Linked DNA regions of Homo sapiens. The protein of the gene in region 2 purifies or fractionates together with the protein of the main gene of each other region. This does not show direct contact. Each region holds a gene or a part of one and is shown on either strand. Other genes may lie near its edges. The genes, in order: PINK1, FOXO3, FOXM1, PPP2R1B, ARHGEF2 and CDC27.

Evidence for each region.
Region 1: the proteins of FOXO3 (region 2) and PINK1 purify together in Homo sapiens (affinity purification with western blotting; one study listed by BioGRID). This does not show direct contact.
Region 3: the proteins of FOXO3 (region 2) and FOXM1 purify together in Homo sapiens (co-immunoprecipitation; one study listed by IntAct). This does not show direct contact.
Region 4: the proteins of FOXO3 (region 2) and PPP2R1B purify together in Homo sapiens (affinity purification with mass spectrometry, with the first as the bait; one large-scale study listed by BioGRID). This does not show direct contact.
Region 5: the proteins of FOXO3 (region 2) and ARHGEF2 purify together in Homo sapiens (affinity purification with mass spectrometry; one large-scale study listed by BioGRID and IntAct). This does not show direct contact.
Region 6: the proteins of FOXO3 (region 2) and CDC27 purify together in Homo sapiens (affinity purification with mass spectrometry; one large-scale study listed by BioGRID and IntAct). This does not show direct contact.

The regions. Positions count from the first base shown.
Region 1 is NC_000001.11:20,643,458-20,646,957, reverse strand, and holds part of PINK1 (serine/threonine-protein kinase PINK1, mitochondrial precursor), read right to left. Parts: intron 2,469-3,500; coding exon 2,286-2,468; intron 1,399-2,285; coding exon 1,235-1,398; intron 1-1,234. UniProt on the Homo sapiens protein: Serine/threonine-protein kinase which acts as a sensor of mitochondrial damage and protects against mitochondrial dysfunction during cellular stress.
Region 2 is NC_000006.12:108,567,417-108,570,916, forward strand, and holds part of FOXO3 (forkhead box protein O3), read left to right. Parts: exon of another isoform or gene 1-133; intron 134-816; exon of another isoform or gene 817-2,326; intron 2,327-3,500. UniProt on the Homo sapiens protein: Transcriptional activator that recognizes and binds to the DNA sequence 5'-[AG]TAAA[TC]A-3' and regulates different processes, such as apoptosis and autophagy.
Region 3 is NC_000012.12:2,867,175-2,870,674, reverse strand, and holds part of FOXM1 (forkhead box protein M1), read left to right. Parts: intron 1-1,920; coding exon 1,921-2,112; coding exon of another isoform or gene 2,113-2,157; exon of another isoform or gene 2,158-2,461; intron 2,462-3,500. UniProt on the Homo sapiens protein: Transcription factor regulating the expression of cell cycle genes essential for DNA replication and mitosis. Plays a role in the control of cell proliferation. Also plays a role in DNA break repair, participating in the DNA damage checkpoint response.
Region 4 is NC_000011.10:111,759,890-111,763,389, reverse strand, and holds part of PPP2R1B (serine/threonine-protein phosphatase 2A 65 kDa regulatory subunit A beta isoform), read left to right. Parts: intron 1-2,338; coding exon 2,339-2,571; intron 2,572-3,438; coding exon 3,439-3,500. UniProt on the Homo sapiens protein: The PR65 subunit of protein phosphatase 2A serves as a scaffolding molecule to coordinate the assembly of the catalytic subunit and a variable regulatory B subunit.
Region 5 is NC_000001.11:155,961,548-155,965,047, reverse strand, and holds part of ARHGEF2 (rho guanine nucleotide exchange factor 2), read left to right. Parts: coding exon 1-60; intron 61-1,864; coding exon 1,865-2,115; intron 2,116-2,329; coding exon 2,330-2,455; intron 2,456-2,825; coding exon 2,826-2,943; intron 2,944-3,138; coding exon 3,139-3,387; intron 3,388-3,500. UniProt on the Homo sapiens protein: Activates Rho-GTPases by promoting the exchange of GDP for GTP.
Region 6 is NC_000017.11:47,179,296-47,182,795, reverse strand, and holds part of CDC27 (cell division cycle protein 27 homolog), read left to right. Parts: intron 1-1,158; coding exon 1,159-1,234; intron 1,235-3,500. UniProt on the Homo sapiens protein: Component of the anaphase promoting complex/cyclosome (APC/C), a cell cycle-regulated E3 ubiquitin ligase that controls progression through mitosis and the G1 phase of the cell cycle.

The DNA.
Region 1 (3,500 bases), on a different chromosome or scaffold from region 2:
CAGTGAGCTGAGATGGCGCCACTGCACTCCAGCCTGGGCAACAAAGCAAGATTCTGTCTCAAATAAATAAATAAATAAATAAGTAAATAAATAAAGAAATAATAAAAGCCAGTTCCTCTAGTCAATTATTTTAAATCTTCTAGTTCAAAAATTTATCAGATGTATGAATCTCCTTACAATTTTCCTAGGCAAGTGGCCATTCAGCTTCTACTTGAATGCTTCCAGTGGTAGGCAACTCATTTCCAGAGGCAACTGGGCTTACATTTGGACAGCTTTCATTGTTTGAAAAATTTAATTAATTAATTAATTTATTTTGAGATGGACTCTCACTCTGTCGCCAGGCTGGAATGCAGTGGCACAATCTCGGCTCACTACAACCTCCGCCTCCCGGGTTCAAGCAATTCTCCTGCCTCAGCTTCCCAAGTAGCTGAGATTACAGGCGCCCGCCACCATGCCCAGCTAATTTTTGTATTTTTAGTAGAGATGGGGTTTCACCATGTTGGCCAGGATGGTCTCGATCTCTTGACCTCATGATCTGCCCGCCTCAGCCTCTCAAAGTGCTGGGATTACAGGCGTGAGCCACTACCCCCGGCCGAAAGTTATTTTTTATAATGAGCTAAAGTCTACTTCTCTTTTACTTTATTATTTTTTATTATTTTTTTGAGATAGGATCTCACTCTGCTGCCCAGGCTGGAGTACAGTGGCACATTCATAGCTCATTGCAGACTCTTAACTCCTAGGCTCAAGTGATCCTCCGACCTCAGCCTCCCAAGTAGCTGGGGCTACAGGTGCATGCCACCATGCCTGGCTAACTTTTTTTCCGGCTAATTTAAAACATATTTTTTTTTTGTAGAGAAGGGATCTCACTCTGTTTCCCAGGCTGGTCTCAAACTGCTGGCCTCAAGCAATCCTCAAGCAAGCCTCCCAAAGTGTTGGGATTACAGGTGTCAGCCACTGTGCCGGGCCTCTTTATTTACCTAGGAAAACTTGCAGCACTGAGGTCCTTGTTCTTTAAGTGGGCTAGAGAAAGGAACTTGGGAAGTGCTGTCTCTCTGCAAAGAGAGAAAAAAAAACCCCGTTCTAAGGGAGAGATTGCTAACCTCTTGTGTGCGGAGCTAAATAAAGACATGACTTAGAACACAAAACCAGAGAGGACCTGAAGAGTCAGTCCTAAATGCTCCTGACCCACCCTCTAGTGCCCCTGGAGAGCTCTGATGGTGCAGCAGGTTCCTACCTGGGTCCAGCTCCACAAGGATGTTGTCGGATTTCAGGTCTCTGTGCGCGATGCCCTGTTGAACCAGATGGTCCACGCCTTCCAGCAGCTGCAGCAGCATCATGGCGGCGAGGCGGGGGCTGGGTGTGTTCACACAAAGGTACTGGCGCAGGGTACAGGGATAGCTGGCGGAGAGGGGAGAGGGCCTCTGGCTACCACACATCGACGACTCCCAATACGTTTTTTTTTTTTTTTTTGAGATGGAGTCTCACTCTGTCGCCAAGCTGGAGTGCAGTAGCACGATCTTGGCTCACTGCAACCTCCACCTTCCAGGTTCAAGCAATTCTCCTACCTCAGCCTCCCGAGTAGCTGGGATTATAGGTGCCCGCCACCACACCAGGCTAATTTTTGTATGTTTAGTAGATACAGGGTTTCATCATGTTGGCCAGGCTGGTCTCAAACTCCTGACCTCAAGTGATCTACCCACCTCCGCCTTCCAAAGTGCTGGGATTACAGGCGTCAGCCACCATTCCCGGCCTCCTAATAACCTTAATCACTGTTAGGGTTAGGCCGTTCCTCTTCCCCTTCCAGGAGCACTTTGATTCCCACTTTTCCCCAGCATCCTTTCTGTTCCCTCCCACTCACCATCCTCAAATTAGGAAGTAAGAGTTGGGGCTCCCTATATTCAAAGTAATGGTGCAGATAATTATTTCCTTAAAATAAAATACCCACTATAGCAAAGTTAGGGGATACAGAGGGTGAGGAAGGAGAACGGTTTTTATGTTAAAAACAGATAAGTCCAGCCACAGAAAAGGTTAACAGTCAAATGGACCAAAAGGACTAGGTGACAAGTATGTTCTGGATGAAGATGAGAGTTTGTTTCCATGAAAAATCGTCCTACAGGGAAAATGCTCTCCAGGGCAGATATGTTCCCTTTGCATGGCTTTCTTCTCCGGAAGGGTGATGACCCTGTTCTCCAAAACCCCCTGATCAAGGTGCACATGGAGGGCAGGAACCAGCTCCCCTTGGGAGATGTATCAGCTCCAGGCCCTGCCGCGCTGCTGTCACTTACTTCTTCATAACGAGGAACAGCGTCCGGCCATGGCCCAGGCCTTCAGGGTGGAGGCGTGAGGGCAGCACATCAGGGTAGTCGACCAGGGCCCCTGGCAGCAGCGGCACGGAAGAGGTGAAGGCGCGGAGAACCCGGATGATGTTGGGGTGAGGGGCTAGTTGCTTGGGACCTCTCTTGGATTTTCTAGTCAGCCAAGTGAGACAAACATATGAGGCCAGCATCAGATACAACACCTGGAAAGAATAACCTAAGGCCACACCAACACTGGCACTGACATTCATTATTCACTTACTATCAAATGTTTATCATAGATTTGCTATGTGCCAGGTACTGTACATGGTGTTGGAGAACACATCTGATGACTCCCCTACCCATCCTTCAATCCATTTGTCCATCCGTCTGTCCGTCCGTCCATCCGTACACCCATCCATCCTATCCATCCCATGTGGCAGAACACAGGTGGAGAAACCCTGGTATCAGACTGCCTGGGTTTGCATTCCAGGTCTGCCACTGTAAGTCCTTGGCTGAGTTGCAGTAGCCCCAACCTTATCCACAGTTTTGCTTTCTGCAATTTCAGTTATCTACAGTTTGAGAATAGGTGAGTACAAGAAGATATTTAGAGAGAGGAGAGAGAGAGAGACCACATTCACATAACTTTTATTACAGTATATTGTCATAATTATTCTATTTTATTAGTTATCTTTAATTTTTTACTGTGCCTAATTTATAAATTAAACTTTACCATAGGTATGTGTGTATAGGAAAAAACACAGTATATATAGGGTTTGTTACTATCTGTGGCTTCAGGCATCCACTGGGGGATCTATCTTGGAATGTGTCCCCTCTGTCCTTATCTTCTCTGGGCTCAATCTCCAGGGTGCAAGGGGAATGCAGTGTTAACACGCTGCATAAGGTTGTCAAAGTGTGGAAGGCACCTAGAATCGTGTCTAGCACAGAGGAAGCTCTCAGCTGCTATTAGCTGTACTATTATTCATTCAACCAATACGCACTGTTTGCATGCTGAGTACCAGACATCATGCTGGAATGCTGTGGAACTATGGCACAGAACAAGACAGAGTCCCTGTCCTCATGGATTTGCAGTCTATCAGGGGAGAGAGATATTCATCAATGAGTAATCATGTGAGCTCCCTAAGAGCAAGGACTGTGCCTGAATTTTCTCCATTATTCCAAGTCTAGTACAGTAGTTGGCATAGA
Region 2 (3,500 bases):
GCCTGATGTAGATCTGGCCTTCCTCTGGAGTGGATGTGGAGCCTTGATGCCACTGACTCATCTGTATTACTTGTTGCCTAAAACTCAGAACTAAAAGAGATCTTAAAGATCATCTAACTACCTTATTTTGCAGGTGAGAAACATGCTAGGACTATGTGAGTGACTGGGTTCAGGGTTCCACAGCTAGTAGGGGTGGAGTAACGGGTGTGTCCAGTCAGTGCAGTGGTTCATGCCTATAATTTTAACACTTTGGGAGGCCAAGGCAGGAGGATTGCCTGAGGCCAGGAGTTTGAGACCAGCCTGGGCAACAAAGTGAGACCTCGTCTCTACCAGAAAAAAAGAAAACTAGGCCAGGTGCGGTGGCTCATGCCTGTAATCCCAGCACTTTGGGAGGCCCAGGTGGGTGGATCACCTGAGGTCAGGAGTTCGAGACCAGCCTTACCAACATGGTGAAACCCTGTCTCTACTAAAAGTACAAAAAGCTAGCCGGGCATCGTGGCGCATGCCTGTAATCCCAGCTACTAGGGAGGCTGAGGCAGGAGAATTGCTTGAACCTGGGAGGCGGAGGTTGCAGTGAGCCAAGATTGTGCCGTTGCACTCCAGCCTGGGTAACAAGAGCGAAACTCCATCTCAAAAAAAAAAAAAATTAGCTCTGTTGTGGTGGTGCATGCCTGTAGTCCCAGCTGCTTGAGAGGCTGAGGCAGGAGGATCCCTTAATCCCAGGAGTTTGAGACTGCAGTGAGCACGACTGCACCACTGCACTCCAGCCTGGATGACAGAGTGAGACCCTCTCTCTCTCTTTTTTTTTTTTTTTTAAAGCGTGTGTTCATACCACTGTACTGTAGTGTCTACTGCCTACCATTGTGGTTTCACAGCTGTTCATCTCAGTGCTGTTTGCCTCAAGTTCTTCAAGCTCTTCACTTGCTGTCTTCTGCTTCTCCTCCCCTCTTCTAGGCTAGCTCGCACTGGAGTCGCTGTGTTTCTCCTTTTGTGTTCTCCATCAGCACTCTCTACTTACCTTGCTAAATGCCTTTTCTTTCAACGCCACCTTACCCTGCCCACCCCATGGCTGCTACCTGTTTATTTTGTCATTTTGCTAAGACTGTTGAATATTTTTAAGCACAGTATAAGAGGCTTTAAATTAGGGAATGTGTCTGCCAGACAAATAAGTGTTTCTAATATTTGGAGCTGCTTTTTGGATTTTATAATCAACCCATATGGATAGCCTTAGTTCTGGGGCTGTGACTCTGAAAGGGGCTGATGTGACTCAGGAGTGAGCTGGTGTCATGAGTGGAGTCTTTTGGATACTTGCAGCTCTGAAGGTGGCATCAGCTTTAGACCTCCTAGCATCGATGTTGATGTGATGTGGTGTAAATGTGAGATGATGCTGTGCTATCTGGGGTTTCTTGCAGTGCCTTGTTACCCAATGCATAAGTCTCTGAAAACTCCATAAGTGTCCATCACTACTTACCACAGAAACTGAAGGAAGCCTGATCTTGGGATGACCTTGTTGCATTAAGAGAAAAAGGAAATGAAGTTTGCCATCTGTATGTAAACCCGCTATTTGTATCATCAACATGCAGTGTCGAGAAAGTCACCATAGAATTGTTTTGCCTAAAGTTTATTTTACTCACTTTTAGGAACAAAGCTGTTATGTAAAGCCTTAGTTGTTTGTAATGTTCTGCATTTTGGGGCAGAAGTCCCAAATGTACTTCAAGTTTTCTGTCCATGGATTGGGAAATAGAAGTCATGTATGAAAGGAGAGGAGATAGCAGACAGTCTTTGAGATGAACTATTTCAAGGACCAGTCTGCAGTTCTTCCAAGTTAGAGTTCTGAATATGTGGTTAGGCTAGTGATGATGATAGAACACCCCAGTTCTGACTGCATCATTGCCCAGACAGACCCAGTATCTTTCACCATTTTATTCCTGACCAAACAACGTTCATTTCCCAGTATCTTAGTCTCTCCTAAAGGAAAAAGAACTACGGTAGCTGGCATCCATAGAGTACTGTGATGTACCACTCTTGGTAAAACGGAAATGTCTGATTGGAGTGTGTTTCAAGCCAGGCTTTTCTATAATTCGCTTGTTCCACTTTTCACTCCTGAGTTTTTGAGGTTTTAATCTTGAGACTTTTTCTCTGCAGTGCCTCAGTTACTACTATGGAATAACATAATAAGCGAAGAGGATGACTTCTCTGCTGGGCTGTGGTTCTTCTAGTAATTCCGCTACTCCTGGGTCATTGCCTGGGGTGAGGAGGCCAGGTTATCTTCTGGAGGCTCACCACACCTTGGTGTCCAGATGTGCCCTAGGACTGCAGTGGAGAGGTGAGCACAGAGTAAGGAAAGCATGTGGCACATGTGTAGGGGGCAAGGCTGGAGCAGGAAGTAAACTCTCCCCCAAACAAACAAATAAACAAACAGCATACATTACCTTCCTTCTGGAGTGAACCTATAGTAAACCCAACAGAGATGTGTTTGGCAGTTTTCAGTACGTGTTTAGGAATTTGTTTGAAAACCATTAGGGGGTGGGGTGGGGTGGAAGAATCCACATCATGTTTTCCCTTGCGTGGTTTTTTTTTTTTTTTTTTTTTTTTTTTTTTGAGACAGAATCTCGCTCTGTCGCCTAGGCTGGAGTGCAGTGGCGTGATCTTGGCTCACTGCAAGCTCCGCCTCCTGGGTTCATGCCATTCTCCTGCCTCAGCCTCCCAAGTAGCTGGGACTGCAGGCGTTCGCCACCACTCCCAGCTAATTTTTTGTATTTTTATTAGAGACGGGGCTTCACTGTGTTAGCCAGGATGGTCTTGATCTGCTGACCTCATGATCTGCCTGCCTCGGCCTCCCAAAGTGCTGGGATTACAGGCATGAGCCATTGCACCCGGCTCCCTTGTGTATTTTTATTTTAAATTTTTTATTTGAGACAAGGCCTTGCTCTGTCACCTAGGCTGGAGTGCGGTGGCACAATCATAGCTCTCCACAGCTTCAAACTCCTGGCTCTCTCTGTAGAGAGCTATGATCCTCCTGCCTCAGCTGCCCTAGTAGCTGGGACTACTAATGAGCGCCACGACACCCAGCTAATTTTATGTTTTTTTTGTAGAGATATGAGGTCTCACTTTGTTGCCAGGTTGGTCTCAAACTCCTGGGTTCAAGCGATCCTCTTACTTGGGCCTCCTAAAGTGCTGGGATTATAAACATGAGCCCCTGCAACCAGCCTTCCTTGTATTTCAGATGTCTAGTGAAGTTAGTTAAGTTAGCCCTTGAAGGTATTGAGAATTTACTTTAAATTCAGAGCCAGCAGAGGGAGTACACAAGTCTTTAAGCTGATGTCAAGTATTTTTTTCTCCACACAGCTAAAATAATACCTTGATTATTTTTTAAAGAACTCTGATATATAGTGTTTCCATGTAAGTTTATTGTCATCATTAGAAAAGGAAAATTTAGGAGAGGGGGTGTGGAGATTAAAAACTTAAAGCAAGTGTTTTAAAGGAAACCCTGGTCTTCT
Region 3 (3,500 bases), on a different chromosome or scaffold from region 2:
TTTTTTTCTTTTTGAGACGGATTCTCTCTTTGTTGCCAGGCTGGAGTGCAGTGGCACAATCTCTGCTCACTGAAACCTCTGCATCCCAGGTTCAAGTGATTCTCCTGCCTCAGCCTCCCGAGTAGCTGGGACTATAGGCGCCCGCCACCACGCCCGGCTAATTTTTTTATTTTTAGTAGAGATGGGGTTTCACCATGGTGGCCAGGATGGTCTCAATCTCTTGACCTCGTCATCCACCCGCCTCAGCCTCCCAAAGTGTTGGGATTACAGGCGTGAGCCACCGTACCCAGCCTAGTTCCTACTTATAAGTGAGAACATGCAATATTTGGTTTTCTGTTCCTGCATTAAATCGCTTAGGATCATAGCCTCCAGCTCAACAATCTTTAAAAGTGAAAATTTGGCCAGGCGCGATAACTCATGCTTGTAATCACAGCACTTTGGGAGGCCAAGGTGAGTGGATCACCTGACGTCGGGAGTTCCAGACCAGCCTGACCCCGCCTCTACTAGCAATACAAAATTAGCTGGGTGCAGTAGTACATGCCTATAATCCCAGCTACTCGGGAGGCTGAGGCAGGAGAATCACTTGAACCCAGGAGGCAGAGCTTGCGGTGAGCCAAGATCGTGCCATTACACTCCAACCTGGGCAACAAAAGTGAAACTCTGTCTCAAAAAAAAAAAAAAAGTGAAAATTTACATGCGTGTATATGTAAGTAAATATTAATTGTGCTATATACATAAAATTTGTGTACTTTAGAAAGTAATATCTCCAATTTTAAAAATGTGAATGAGACCGGGCATAGCGGCTGACAATTGTAATCCCAGCACTTTGGGAGGCCAAGGTGGGCAGATTGCTTGAGCCCGTAAGTTCTAGGCCAGCCTGGGCAACATAGCAAAATCCTGGTCTCTACTACTAAAAATACGAAAAAAAAAAAAAAAATCGCCAGGCGCAATGGCTCATGCCTGTAATCCCATCACTCTGGGAGGCCAAGGTGGGTGGATCACCTGAGGTCAGGAGTTCGAGACTAGCCTGGCCAATATGGTAAACCCCATCTCTACTAAAAATACAAAAAAAGTAGCTGGGCGTGGTGGCAGGCACCTGTAATCTCAGCTACTTGGGAGGCTGCAGCAGGAGAATCGCTTGAACCCAGGAGGCAGAGGTTGCAGTGAGCCGAGATCGTACCATTGTACTCCAGCCTGGGCAACAAGAGTGAAACTCCATCTCAAAAAAAAAAAAAAAATTAGCTGGGCGTGGTGGTGTATGCCTGTAGTCCCAGCTACTTGGAGGCTGAGACAGGAGGATCACCTGAGCCTGGGAAGGTCAAGGCTGCAGTGAGCTGTGATCCAGCCACTGCACGCTATCCTGGGTGACACAGTGAGACCCTGTCTCAAAAAAAGAAAAAGAAATGTGATTGATCAGCTCTTTGCCTAAAACTTAGCTAACTGTGTGCTTTGCAGACATTGTCTGACTCATAGTCTTGAGAATGTTTCTCTCATACAAACATTGAAATGAGATGCGTTTATTCACAGCACATCAGGAACAGAAATGGGACTAAGACCTAGGTTTCTAGACCCAAAAGTCTGAAAAACGGGCGTGGTTTTAGTGTAACATCAATGCTTTGAGAATCAAAGTACATACTCAAACTTTCCTAAGAAATTTCAACTGGAAGGGACTGGATTTTCTCCAAATTCAACAAAATGATGGATGACAAAACCAGTTTCTTATTGGCTAGGGTCTAGGCTAGATCATCTCCAAGATTCTTCCCAACTCTAAAATTTTATTCTATGAGATAGTGGTCTCAGATGAGTTTGTTTCTAGACCGTCCTATGGGATAAAGGTTTCTCTAGATGTTCTTCAAGGGCTTGGGTTGGGGGTGCTTCTCATGAACTCTTTCATGTCATTCCCTGTGTCATAACCCTCAGGTTGAGGAGCCTTCGAGACCATCAGCGTCCTGGCAGAACTCTGTGTCTGAGCGGCCACCCTACTCTTACATGGCCATGATACAATTCGCCATCAACAGCACTGAGAGGAAGCGCATGACTTTGAAAGACATCTATACGTGGATTGAGGACCACTTTCCCTACTTTAAGCACATTGCCAAGCCAGGCTGGAAGGTAATGTGTCCCACAGCAACCAAAATCAAGGTCAGCCCAGCCTGACAGTCTCTCCAGTGCTGTACTGCAACTTGTATCTGGGACAGCAGTTAAGTGCAAAGGACACTAGAATGATAAACAAATGTATCTTTTAGATTGTGACTCAATCTTATTGAATCCAGGCAAAATCATTAAGAAGAGCTCCTTAACTACTTCATGTGTTACTACCTAAAGTCCATGGAGGGTCTTCAATGTAGCACTCAAGCCCACTTTTCTGCTACACTCAACAGCCGTCCTAGATGCCAGCAGCTAGAGTGGCTAAGTAGTTTTATGAAAATGTCTTGATTAAAAAAAAAAATGCTGTCTGTGAGCCTCATGACCCAAGATGTCATCTCCTGTAGCGTCACATAGCATTTCTAGTGGGCAGGGGTTTTCCTTTCACTTCATTCATGGAAAGACCGAGATGCCTGTGAGTCAACATAGCTCACGCAGTTGGTCGGTGTCAGAGCCACAAATGAGGTCTTCTGACGGGTGCTCAATTCCAAGTCAAGTGTGCTTTGTTTTCCTCATGGTAGAACTCTTTCTTTTTTTTTTTTTTTTTTTTGAGACAGAGTCTCGCTCTGTCACCCAGGCTGGAGTGCAATGGCAGATCTCAGGTCACTGCAACCTCCTCCGCCTCCAAGGTTCAAGCGATTCTCCTGCCTCAGCCTCCCGAGTAGCTGGGACTACAGGCATGCGCCACCACGCCTGGCTAATTTTTTTGTATTTTTAGTAGAGACAGTGTTTCACCATGTTGGTCAGGCTGGTCTCGAACTCCTAACCTCAAATGATCCACCCGTCTCGACCTCCCAAAGTGCTGGGATTACAGGCATGAGCCACCACACCTGGCCCCTCATGGTAGAACTATGTTTTTTTTTTTTTTGAGATGGAGTCTCGCTCTGTCACCCAGGCTGGAGTGCAGTGGCGCGATCTCGGCTCACTGCAAGCTCCGCCTCCTGGGTTCACGCCATTCTCCTGCCTCAGCTTCCCGAGTAGCTGGGACTACAGGCGCCCGCCACTACGCCTGGCTAATTCATGGTAGAACTTTTAATTTTACTCCCTTCCATCAGCTTACTTTCCTAGTTTTTTGTTTGTTTGTTTTTTGAGACAGGGTCTCACCCTGTTGCCTGGGCTGGAGTGCAGCCTCAGCCCCCTGGGCTCAAGCTCTTCCCTCCTCAACATCCCAAGTAGCTGGGATAACAGGTGCACCACCACAGTCCGCTAATTTTTTTTTTGTAGAGACAGTTGCCCAGGCTGGTTACTATGTTGCCCAGGCTGGTCTGAACTCCTAGTCTCAAGCACTCCTCCTGCCTTAGCCTCTCAGTGCACTGTGATTACAGGCGTGAGCCACCACACCCAGCCTTAATTTC
Region 4 (3,500 bases), on a different chromosome or scaffold from region 2:
AAGGCTTTTTATGACCCGCCTCTGTAGGATTATCATATGCCCAGTGGTACTGCATGAGAAGAGGTGACAGTAGGCAGGGAACAGACTGCAAAAGGCCTTGATAACCTCTTCCATTCACATTGGTCATCTTTCTGTTTTTTGAACTAACCAAGCTCATTATTCCCTTAGGACCTTTGCCCTAGGTCTTCCCTCTAATGAAAAGCTCTTTCAAGCTTTCTGTGGCTGGCTCCTTGTCATTCAGGGATCAACTTCAATGCATCTCCTCAGGGAGGTTTTCCCCAACCACTCAACTTAAAATAGCCTCACAGTCATCCCTTACTACATCATCCTACTCCTTTTTTCTATAGAGTACTCATCACCATCTACTTATTTTCTTGATTGATTGTTGTCTTACTCCATTAGAATGTAAATGCCACTAGAGTGAGGAACCTTGTCTGCCTTGTTTCTTCTGTGTCCTCAATGCTAGAATATACCAATAATAATGTATTGAAAAAATGAGTTTCAGAGGCTTGGAAGCATGAAACAGGCTGGGTTCAAAACTGCCGGAGTGTGGCTGGGTGTGGTGGCTCACACCTGTAATCCTTGCCTTGGGAGGCCAAAGCAGCAGGAGGATTGCTTGAGGCCAGGAGTTCAAGATCAGCCTGGGCAACATAGTGAGACCCCAACACTTAAAAAAAAATAGCTGGGCATGATGTCATGTGTCTGAGTCCTAGCTATTCGGGACGCTGAGGCAGAAGGACGAGGAGTCTGAGGCCGCACTGAGCCATGATTGTGCCACTGCACTTCAGCCTGGGCAACAGAGCAAGACCCTGTCTCTTAAAAAAAAAAAAAAAAAAGAACTGCTGGAGTGTGAAGTGTTGAGGCTGGGTAGGCAGAGTGGTCATCAAGGGCCAGGCAGAGTTCAAATCAAGAGACCACTCATAAGCAATTCTCAGGAGCATGGCCTCATCCTGTAGTAATGATAGCTATTATCCAGTGGTACTGCACGAGAGGGGGTTACAGTAGGCAGGGGACAGATCATGAAATGCATTGGCAAGTGAGAAACAGTATCTTTTCAATGAGTTTCTGAAATACCTTCTAGGAAAGCTGAATACTGTCTACCTGTGTGTATCAAACAATTTTTAAAATATATTATTAGACACACTTCTTTTCTTTAACTCATTATGCTTCTGTTTCACTCTTGGTTAGTTCTATATGTGGGTTTTATGCTTTAAAATCTGTAGCTCATGGCATGTGTAGAATCTACCTGGACTACATGCAAACTCAGTAAGGCAGAGGTTCAGAGAGCCAGCCTGTTTACACTTTTTACTAGGCCATGCCATATTCAGTTACTGCTCTTAATCCAGACCATCCACCCCATTTGGCTTCTTTTATTTCTAAAGCTGTAAGCAAGGTGTCCTACCATCTCTGTACTTTACCTTTTTTTTTTGAGACAAGAGCCTCACTCTGTCACCCAGGCTCAAGTACAGTGGCACAATCTCGGCTCACTGCAACCTCTGCCTCCCGGGTTCAAGTGATTCTCATGCCTCAGCCTCCTGAGTAAGCTGGGTTTACAGGCGTGTGCCACCATGTCTGGCTAATTTTTGTATTTTTTGTAGAGACAGGGTTCCACCATGTTGGCCAGGCTGGTCTCGAGCTCCTGACCTCAAGTGATCTGCCCACCTCGGCCTCCCGACGGCTGGGATTACAGGTGTGAGCCACCGTGCCTGGCCAGTCTCTGTAGTTTTCACTTGATTGTTCTGTCAGAAACTCCTTTCTGCCCTATGGCTAATGGAAAGTTGCTGAATGTGTTCTGAAAAAAGCAATTTTGCATTCAGCATTTTATAGGTTGGATAAAAGGATGGGATGGAGATGGTGGATAAGGGTTGCTTGCACCTCTGGGAATGGTGGAAAGATACTGAAAAGGCTGTGGACTCAGTGACCTGACAAGCTGTTATCCTGTATTTGTGGTGCCTAACATTGGTCATAGTTTTGTACTTACTCTTGAGGAAATATACATGATCCTGTCTGAATTTGGCTATGTATCTTTTAAACCTAGTGATTCAACTCACAGTAATATTAATATTGTGTCAAGTCTTTTACACTGTGTCATTTGTAGACACCATCTGGGAATTGCCATCTGGGACACGAGATCTTGGCTTTTCTACAGAAGTCGTGTCTTTGGGTTGGCCGCACCATATGTTATCACTGTGTGAGCTGAAAGTAACCATTTGGTATGATGCAGCTAACATTCTGGTTACGTGTACCACCTCCCTTCAGTCACTTTAAAAGGTGATTATCTGTTTCTAACCTGATTCAATAAGTTTTCTTCTCTGGTTTTCCTTTTTAATCCATTCAGCCTCCTTTGGAAAATCTGGCAACTGTGGAAGAGACTGTTGTTCGTGACAAGGCTGTGGAGTCCCTGAGACAGATCTCCCAGGAGCATACTCCTGTTGCTCTGGAAGCTTATTTTGTACCTCTGGTGAAACGCTTAGCAAGTGGGGATTGGTTCACCTCTCGCACATCTGCATGTGGTTTGTTCAGCGTTTGCTATCCCAGGGCATCAAATGCTGTTAAAGCAGAAATCAGACAGTAAGCCATGGTATTTTTTTGCCTTGTTAAAGCAGAAATCAGGTAGTAAGCTATGAGTTATTTGGGATTACTGGGGACTTGTAGCTGACAATTTACATAGTACCTTGTTACCAATGAGTGGCTGATACTAGGATAGTAGGATTTATGACATCTTTCTTTTTTTTTTTTAAGAGATAAGGTCTTGCTCTGTTGTCTAGGCTGGAGTGCGGTGGCACAATCATAGCTCACTGCAACCTTGAACTCTTGTGCTTAAGTGATCCTCCAGCCTCAGCCTCCAAGTAGCTAGGACTACCGACATACACTACTGCGCCTGGCTAATTTTTAAAAAAAATTTCTGGCTGGATGCAGTGGCTCATGCTTGTAATCCCAGCACTTTGAGAGGCTGAGGTGGGAGGATTGCTTGAACTCAGGAGTTCAAGACCAGCTTGAGCAACATAGTGAGACCTTGTCTCTACTAAAAAGAAAAAAATTAGCTGGGCATGGTGGGACCCGCCTGTATTTCTAGCTACTCAGAAGGCTGAGGTGGGAGTTCACTTGAGCCCCCGACAAACAACAACAAAAATATTTTTGGCATATAGATAGGGTCTTGCTATGTTGCCCAGTCTGCTTTCAATTCCTGGCCTCAAGCAGTCCTCCTACCTGGGCCTCCCAAAGTGCTTTGATTACAGGTGTGAGGCACCATGCCTGGCCTATGATGTCATTTTTTATTATCCAGTTGAATATGTTTTATTTTTGTTACTTCTATAAGTAGAAGCTTAGTCACTGATTATTGTAAGATAAAACCTCTAAAAGTCTGTCTGTGTGTATGGGGGGCAGGTTTATTCAGTGTTATTTGATGGGAAATACCTTCATTGTTTTATGTTGCAGGCAATTCCGTTCCTTGTGCTCAGATGACACACCAATGGTACGACGTGCTGCTGCTTCCAAAT
Region 5 (3,500 bases), on a different chromosome or scaffold from region 2:
ACAGCAGCTTCCTGCAGCAGCATAAAAAGGAGGTGATGAAGCAGCAAGATGTCATCTATGGTAAGCCAAGACCACCCTAGTCTTCCTCTTCCTTCACCAGGTCCTGTTTATCTACTTCCTTCTTTATTTTTCTTTTTCTTTTTTTTTTTTTTTTTGAGATGGAGTCTCACTCTCTCAACCAGGCTGAAGTGCAGTGGCATGATCTCGGCTCACTGCAGCCTCCACCTCCCAGGTTCAAGCGATTCTCATTACAGGCGCCTGCCACCATGCTGGCTAAGTTTTGCATTTTTAGTAGAGACGGGGTTTCACCATGTTAGCCAGGCTGGTTTCAAACTCCTGACCTCAGGTGATCTGCCCGCCTCAGCCTCCCAAAGTGCTGGGATTACAGGCGTGAGCCACCGTACCCGGCTGTGTCCTTCTTTCTACCAGCCCCTACCTCTCAAAACCCTTTCCCTCTTGGCCTACAAGACCCTGCCTGGTATCCCACAGGTTGCCCACTAGGTCCCTACCTCTTGATGCTGTTGGTCTCCAACACCCTCTCTTTATCCCTTCTTTATCTCTGTCTTCAGTCTTTACTCTGTGCTTGTTCCACGCTTAACACCGTGCTGGAGACTGTGGGAAGCCTCGACATGTAGAAGACATATGGTTCTTACCCTAAAATAGCTCACAGCTTGAGATGATAAGGTGTAAAGATAAAAAATGGAACTGGGCGTGGTGGCTCATGCCTATAATCTCAGCGATTTGGGAGGCCGAGGTGGGAGGATCACTTGACGCCAGGATTTTGAGACCAACCTAGGCAACAAAGCAAGACCTCTGTCTCTAAAAAAAAAATATATATATATATATATGTATATATATATATATATATATATATATATATTTTTTTTTTTTTTTTTTTTTTTTGAAGCAGAGTCTTGCTCTGTCGCCCATGCTGGAGTGCACTGGCGCTATCTCGGCTCACTGCAACCTCCGCCTCCCAGGTTCAAGCAATTCTCCTGCCTCAGCCTCCCAAGTAGCTGGGATTACAGGCGCCTACAACTACACCCGGCTAATTTTTGCATTTTTAGTAGAGACAGGGTTTCATCATGTTGGCCAAGCTGGTCTCGAACACCTGACCTCAGGTGATGCACCCGCCTCGGCCTCCCAAAGTGCTGGGATTATAGGCGTGAGCCACCGTGCCCAGCCGTCTTTAAAAAATATTTTAAAAAACTAGTCAGGTGTGGTGGCATGTGCCTATAGTCCCAGCTACTTGGGAGGCTGAGACAGGAGGATCGCTTGAGCCCAGAAGTTCGAGGCTGCAGTGAGTTATCATTGTGCCACTACACTCCAGCCTGGGCACCAGAGTAAGACCTCATTTCTGGAAAAAAAAAAATAATAATAAAATTTTTGAAAGATAAAAATGAGGGCCGGGTGTGGTGGCTCATGCCTGTAATCCCAGCACTTTGGGAGGCCGAGGTGGGGAGATCACGAGGTCAGGATTTCGAGACCAGCCTGACCAATATGAAGAAACCCCATCTCTACTAAAAATACAAAAATTAGCCGGGCCTGGTGGTGCGTGCCTGTAATCCCAGCTACTCAGGAGGCTGAGGCAGGACAACTGCTCGAACCTAGGAGGTGGAGGTTGCAGTGAGCTGAGATCGCGCCATTGCACTCCAGCCTGGGCAATACAGTGAGACTCTGTCTCAAAAAAAAAAAAAAAAAAAGATAAAAATGATTAGAAAAGTATCTAAGATCATAATAATGCAGAATATTAACCTGGAATGGACCTTGAAAACCTCACGTGAACTGTGAGGTCCTTATCCTAGGGCCCCACGAGTTTTAGCCAAGCCAGGGTAGAGGCCAAATGTCCCAATGTCCCCCACAGAGCTAATCCAGACAGAGCTGCACCATGTGAGGACACTGAAGATCATGACCCGCCTCTTCCGCACGGGGATGCTGGAAGAGCTACACTTGGAGCCAGGAGTGGTCCAGGGCCTGTTCCCCTGCGTGGACGAGCTCAGTGACATCCATACACGCTTCCTCAGCCAGCTATTAGAACGCCGACGCCAGGCCCTGTGCCCTGGCAGCACCCGGAACTTTGTCATCCATCGCTTGGGTGATCTGCTCATCAGCCAGGTGGGAAAAGGCAGGACCCCTGGGTGACATTCATGGAAGGAGGTGTGACTGGGTTGGGCATTTCTTGGGTCCAAATTCTAGGGGTTGGAGGGGAGCCAGGGAGAGCTGGAGAAACAGGAAGCCAGCCTGTTTGGCAGGAGGCCAGAGGTGTGTCCAGTGGGTAAAGTGTGGCTTTGGGGGAATGCTGACCTAACCTTACTCGACCAACTTCTAGTTCTCAGGTCCTAGTGCGGAGCAGATGTGTAAGACCTACTCGGAGTTCTGCAGCCGCCACAGCAAGGCCTTAAAGCTCTATAAGGAGCTGTACGCCCGAGACAAACGCTTCCAGCAATTCATCCGGGTGAGCGGACCTCTCCAGATCCCATGCTCATGGCCCAAACCCACCCTCCCCAACTCATGGGGGTAGTGCCTGTGAGCTGCACCCACATGGAGGTCAGGCATTCGCCACCCGTGCAGACCATCCATACACAGATCCTGTCAGCAGTAACCCCTCAGAATGCTAGAGCACGTTGTGGTAGTTTCCCAAGTACTTTTTGCTCCTTCAGTTGGTCCTCACAACAAACCTGTGGCGTTGTTATCCCCATTTTCCAGATATGTCACCTAGGCAAGCATGAGGTAAATGGCCACGCCAGGGCCAGCACCAGAGCTCAGGCCCCAGGCCTTTCTGTTGCCCTCCCCTCTGGCCCTGAGCCCTGCCTCCTCCCTTGTAGAAAGTGACCCGCCCCGCCGTGCTCAAGCGGCACGGGGTACAGGAGTGCATCCTGCTGGTGACTCAGCGCATCACCAAGTACCCGTTACTCATCAGCCGCATCCTGCAGCATTCCCACGGTGAGTAGGCAGGCCCAGGAGAGGGCCACTGGGAGACGGCCACCTGGGGTGAGGAAAGGCTCGGTATGACCACAGGAAGGGTGGGGTCGGGTGTGAAACCCTGGGCAGCCTCTAAAGGTGGAATCAAGACACGATGGGAACTGGGGTGTGAGTGAAACTGGTTGAGCCGTTCCCCATGCCAACCCCCGGTGCCAGGGATCGAGGAGGAGCGCCAGGACCTGACCACAGCACTGGGGCTAGTGAAGGAGCTGCTGTCCAATGTGGACGAGGGTATTTATCAGCTGGAGAAAGGGGCCCGTCTGCAGGAGATCTACAACCGCATGGACCCTCGGGCCCAAACCCCAGTGCCTGGCAAGGGCCCCTTTGGCCGAGAGGAACTTCTGAGGCGCAAACTCATCCACGATGGCTGCCTGCTCTGGAAGACAGCGACGGGGCGCTTCAAAGGTCAGACCTGCTCGGCAGACTAGGCAGGAATTCAAAGTCAGATGGAGAGTGGGAGATGCCTGCAGGTCTTAGAATCAACCTCTCTTGGCCGGGTGCAGTGGCTCAACGCCTGT
Region 6 (3,500 bases), on a different chromosome or scaffold from region 2:
AAAAAACACCCTAGAAATAACCCAAATGTCCACATGCTGTAAAATAGATAAAATACATTTTGGATTTTGATATGTTTATACAATGGAAATATTATTTATTCAGCAATGAAAACAAATGAACTCTAGCTACACACATCAAGAATGAATTTTCAAAACATTGGATTTCAAAAGCAAATCGTAGCAGAATGTATACAATATGATTGTATTTATTTAAAGTTCAAAAACAGGAAAAAGTAAATGTTATACTGCTTAGAGATGATATGTACAAATGTATAAAATTGTGAAGAAAACCAAGAGAAAGGTCAAGAAAATTCAGTGTGGTGGTTTCCTCTTTGGGGCAGGGAGAGGTTTTGGTATCAACAAGGAACACACAGGGAGTTTCAGAGATATTTTATTTCTTAAGCTGGGTGGTGAGTACATGGGCCTAAATGTCTTTGGTTATTGTTACTTAAAATGTCCTTCTATCTCATATATACTTTAGGTTATATGTTTTGTAATTCTAAAAGAGAAAACATATATTCAAAAAATTAAAAGTTATTCCTATGATAACTTTACTCATTTGCATTCCAATATGCTTCCTGGAGTGGATGAGAATTGAGTGGCATTAAAGGTAATAGATAGGGAAGTTTTTGTGGGAGGATGACATACATTTTAATATCTCTGTCATGTATATCACATAAAGTGGTTGAGAACCACTGCTGCTAAAAGTCTGTAGTTTAGTAGGGTTGGCAGTCCTGTTAACAAATAACCATGTTATGAGTGCTCTACTAGAAGAGGTATCTTAAAAAAGAAATGGCTTGACATCAGCCAGGAAAGCTTTATGGGGCAGATGTTATTTAAGCTGGATCTTTAGGGACGAGCAGTTTATAAGGGGAGACTGGTGAGGGGAGCCCACATTGCCCAATGGAGGAAAAGGGTGTACAAAGGCACAGAAGCCTAAAAGTCCATAGAGAGTTGAGTGAGGAAATTCAGATATGTTAGGAGCCATACTGTGAAGAGCCTTGCCCGGCACACTCTGGAGTTTGCTCTGTGGGCATTGGGGTTTTATCACTTAAATTAGGGATATTAATTTCAGTATTTGATGTAAGGCTGTGTGCTAGTAGTTACCTTGAAAGTCTGTATGTATGTATATTTATGTTCTTTTTCCTCCATTTGCAGGCTGCTATATGGCAAGCACTAAACCACTATGCTTACCGAGATGCGGTTTTCCTCGCAGAACGCCTTTATGCAGAAGGTTTGAAATCTATTCATTGCTGTAGAATGATAAATGAATAACATATATGAAATTCCATAACTTTTTATCACTGTAACAAGATTCTAGCTATCATCATCTTGTTGTTTTTCTGATTGACACTAGTTCATAAAATCTTTACTTTTTTTCTGTGTAGTTCCCTTACATACTACTTTTAATAACTATGTAGAATTGATTCAGGTTTATATGCTATGATTTACTTAATCATTTTTCAATCTTTAGGTTTTTTTTTCCCCCAGGGTTTTTGTTGTTTTGGGTTTTTTTTTTTTTTTTTTTTTTTTTTTTTTTTGAAACAGGGTCTCACTCTGTCACCCATGTTGGAGTACAGTGGGACCATCTCAGCTCACTGCAACCTCTACCTCCCAGGCTCAAGCGATCCTCCCACATCAGCCTCCCAAGTAGCTGGGACCGCAGGCACGGACCACCACGCCTGGCTAATTTTTTTTTTTTTTTTGGTAGAGATAGGGTTTTGCTATGTTGCCCAGGCTGGTCTCAAATTCCTGAGCTTAGGTGATCCACCTGCCTTGGCCTCCCAAAGTGCTGGGATTATACTCATGGGCCACCATGCCATGTATTTTTTTTTTTTTTTTTTTTTTTTAAGAAAAGAGTCTGTATTCTATGGTGAAGAACATGGATTTAGACTCTATAGCCTTGGAACAAATCCTAACCTGTCACTTAAATGTACAGTTTTATAACCTTGGACGAGTTACTTTAATATCTGAAAATTCAGATATTTCATCTATAAAATAATCATTGCCCCTTAGAATTAAAAATTCAATGAGATGGTTTATTTAAAGCCCTTAGCACAGCCATCTGGCTTGGTAATCAATGCTTAATAAACACCACTGATAATGTATGTTTTGTTTCTGTCATTATTATAATTCCCTTTCTAAGATGCTGATATAGATCATTGTGTACAGCTTTTTTTTTTTTTTGAGTCATTTCCTTGGGTTATGTACTTTTAAATGGAATTTACAAGTCAAACAGTATGGGTTTAGTAGCTGAGAGTTGTGAGAACAAGGCCTAAACCTCAGGGGCAGGAAATTTCACAAAAGGACAAAGAGCAATGCTTGGAAGTAGTTTTGAGAAGTTAAGTGGAAACCAGCCTTACCTTGACTCTGAGATAGTGGGATGTAAGGTGATTACTGTCCATGTGAGAGAGCTGTCTCCTCGGTGGAGAATGGGAATTCAGTGAGAAAAGTGAGGAAGATCTGGGCAGCAGGAGTTTAAGGTCCCAATGAAAAGATTAGAAAGGTGAGAAGGAATGGAAGGCTTAGAAAGAAGATTATACAATAGATTAATCTACTCCATTCACTTATGCAAAAGTGATGTTTATTGTGAATAATCTATTTAAAAATATTTTCATTGATACCTAGGCAGGCCCCATATTTTGCTGTATTTTTAAAAATTTTTGTTGAGTCAGAATCTCACTCTGTCGCCCAGGCTAGAGTACAGTGGCACAATCATAGCTCACTGCAGCCTTGAACTCCTGGACTGAAGTGATCCTCCTGCCTCAGCCTCCCAAAGAGCTGGAGTTACAGATGTGAGCCACTGTACTCGGCCACTGTCTTCTATTTCTAGTATTTCCTTTTTGTTTTTGTTTATTATTAAAGAATAGGCAGTTTCTAGTTTATTATAGTTAGGCTCTTAAAAATTGTAAATTCATGGTTTAGAATTCAATTAGATTTTCCCATAGAATTGGTGGCAAGATTCCCAGATTAGTCCACATAAAGCTGTTTAATCCACGTTATTTATGTACCTGATACAATGCTTGGCACTTGGAAAGTTGCTCAGTAAATGTTAGTTTCTTTCAATATAGAACCTCACCATTCGGTTTAACCATATTTATATGAGGAAAGATTTTAGAATTAAGTGTAGTAAGAGCAGATACTATCCTGGCTCAGTAATAATAACAATAATTCTATCACTTATTGATTTCTTACTGTATACTAGGTACTCTAAGTATTTAATATTAGTTACTAATTTAATCTTCAATAATCCTATCAAATAGACATTGCTATTGCCATTTTCTGGATGAAGAACTGAGACTAATGTCCACAGGCGGTAACTAGTAATCTGTCTGATTCCGCTTTCCCAAGAGTAGCAATTACCACTTCTCTGATTTGCAACCATAGTAGGCATCACTAATCCATTACAGTACTCATTCCCACTGAACCAACCTCAGAATTCTTGGCAACAGTTTTCTTGGTGGACAATATCAGTTGATATGCTAGATGTAACCTGTTTG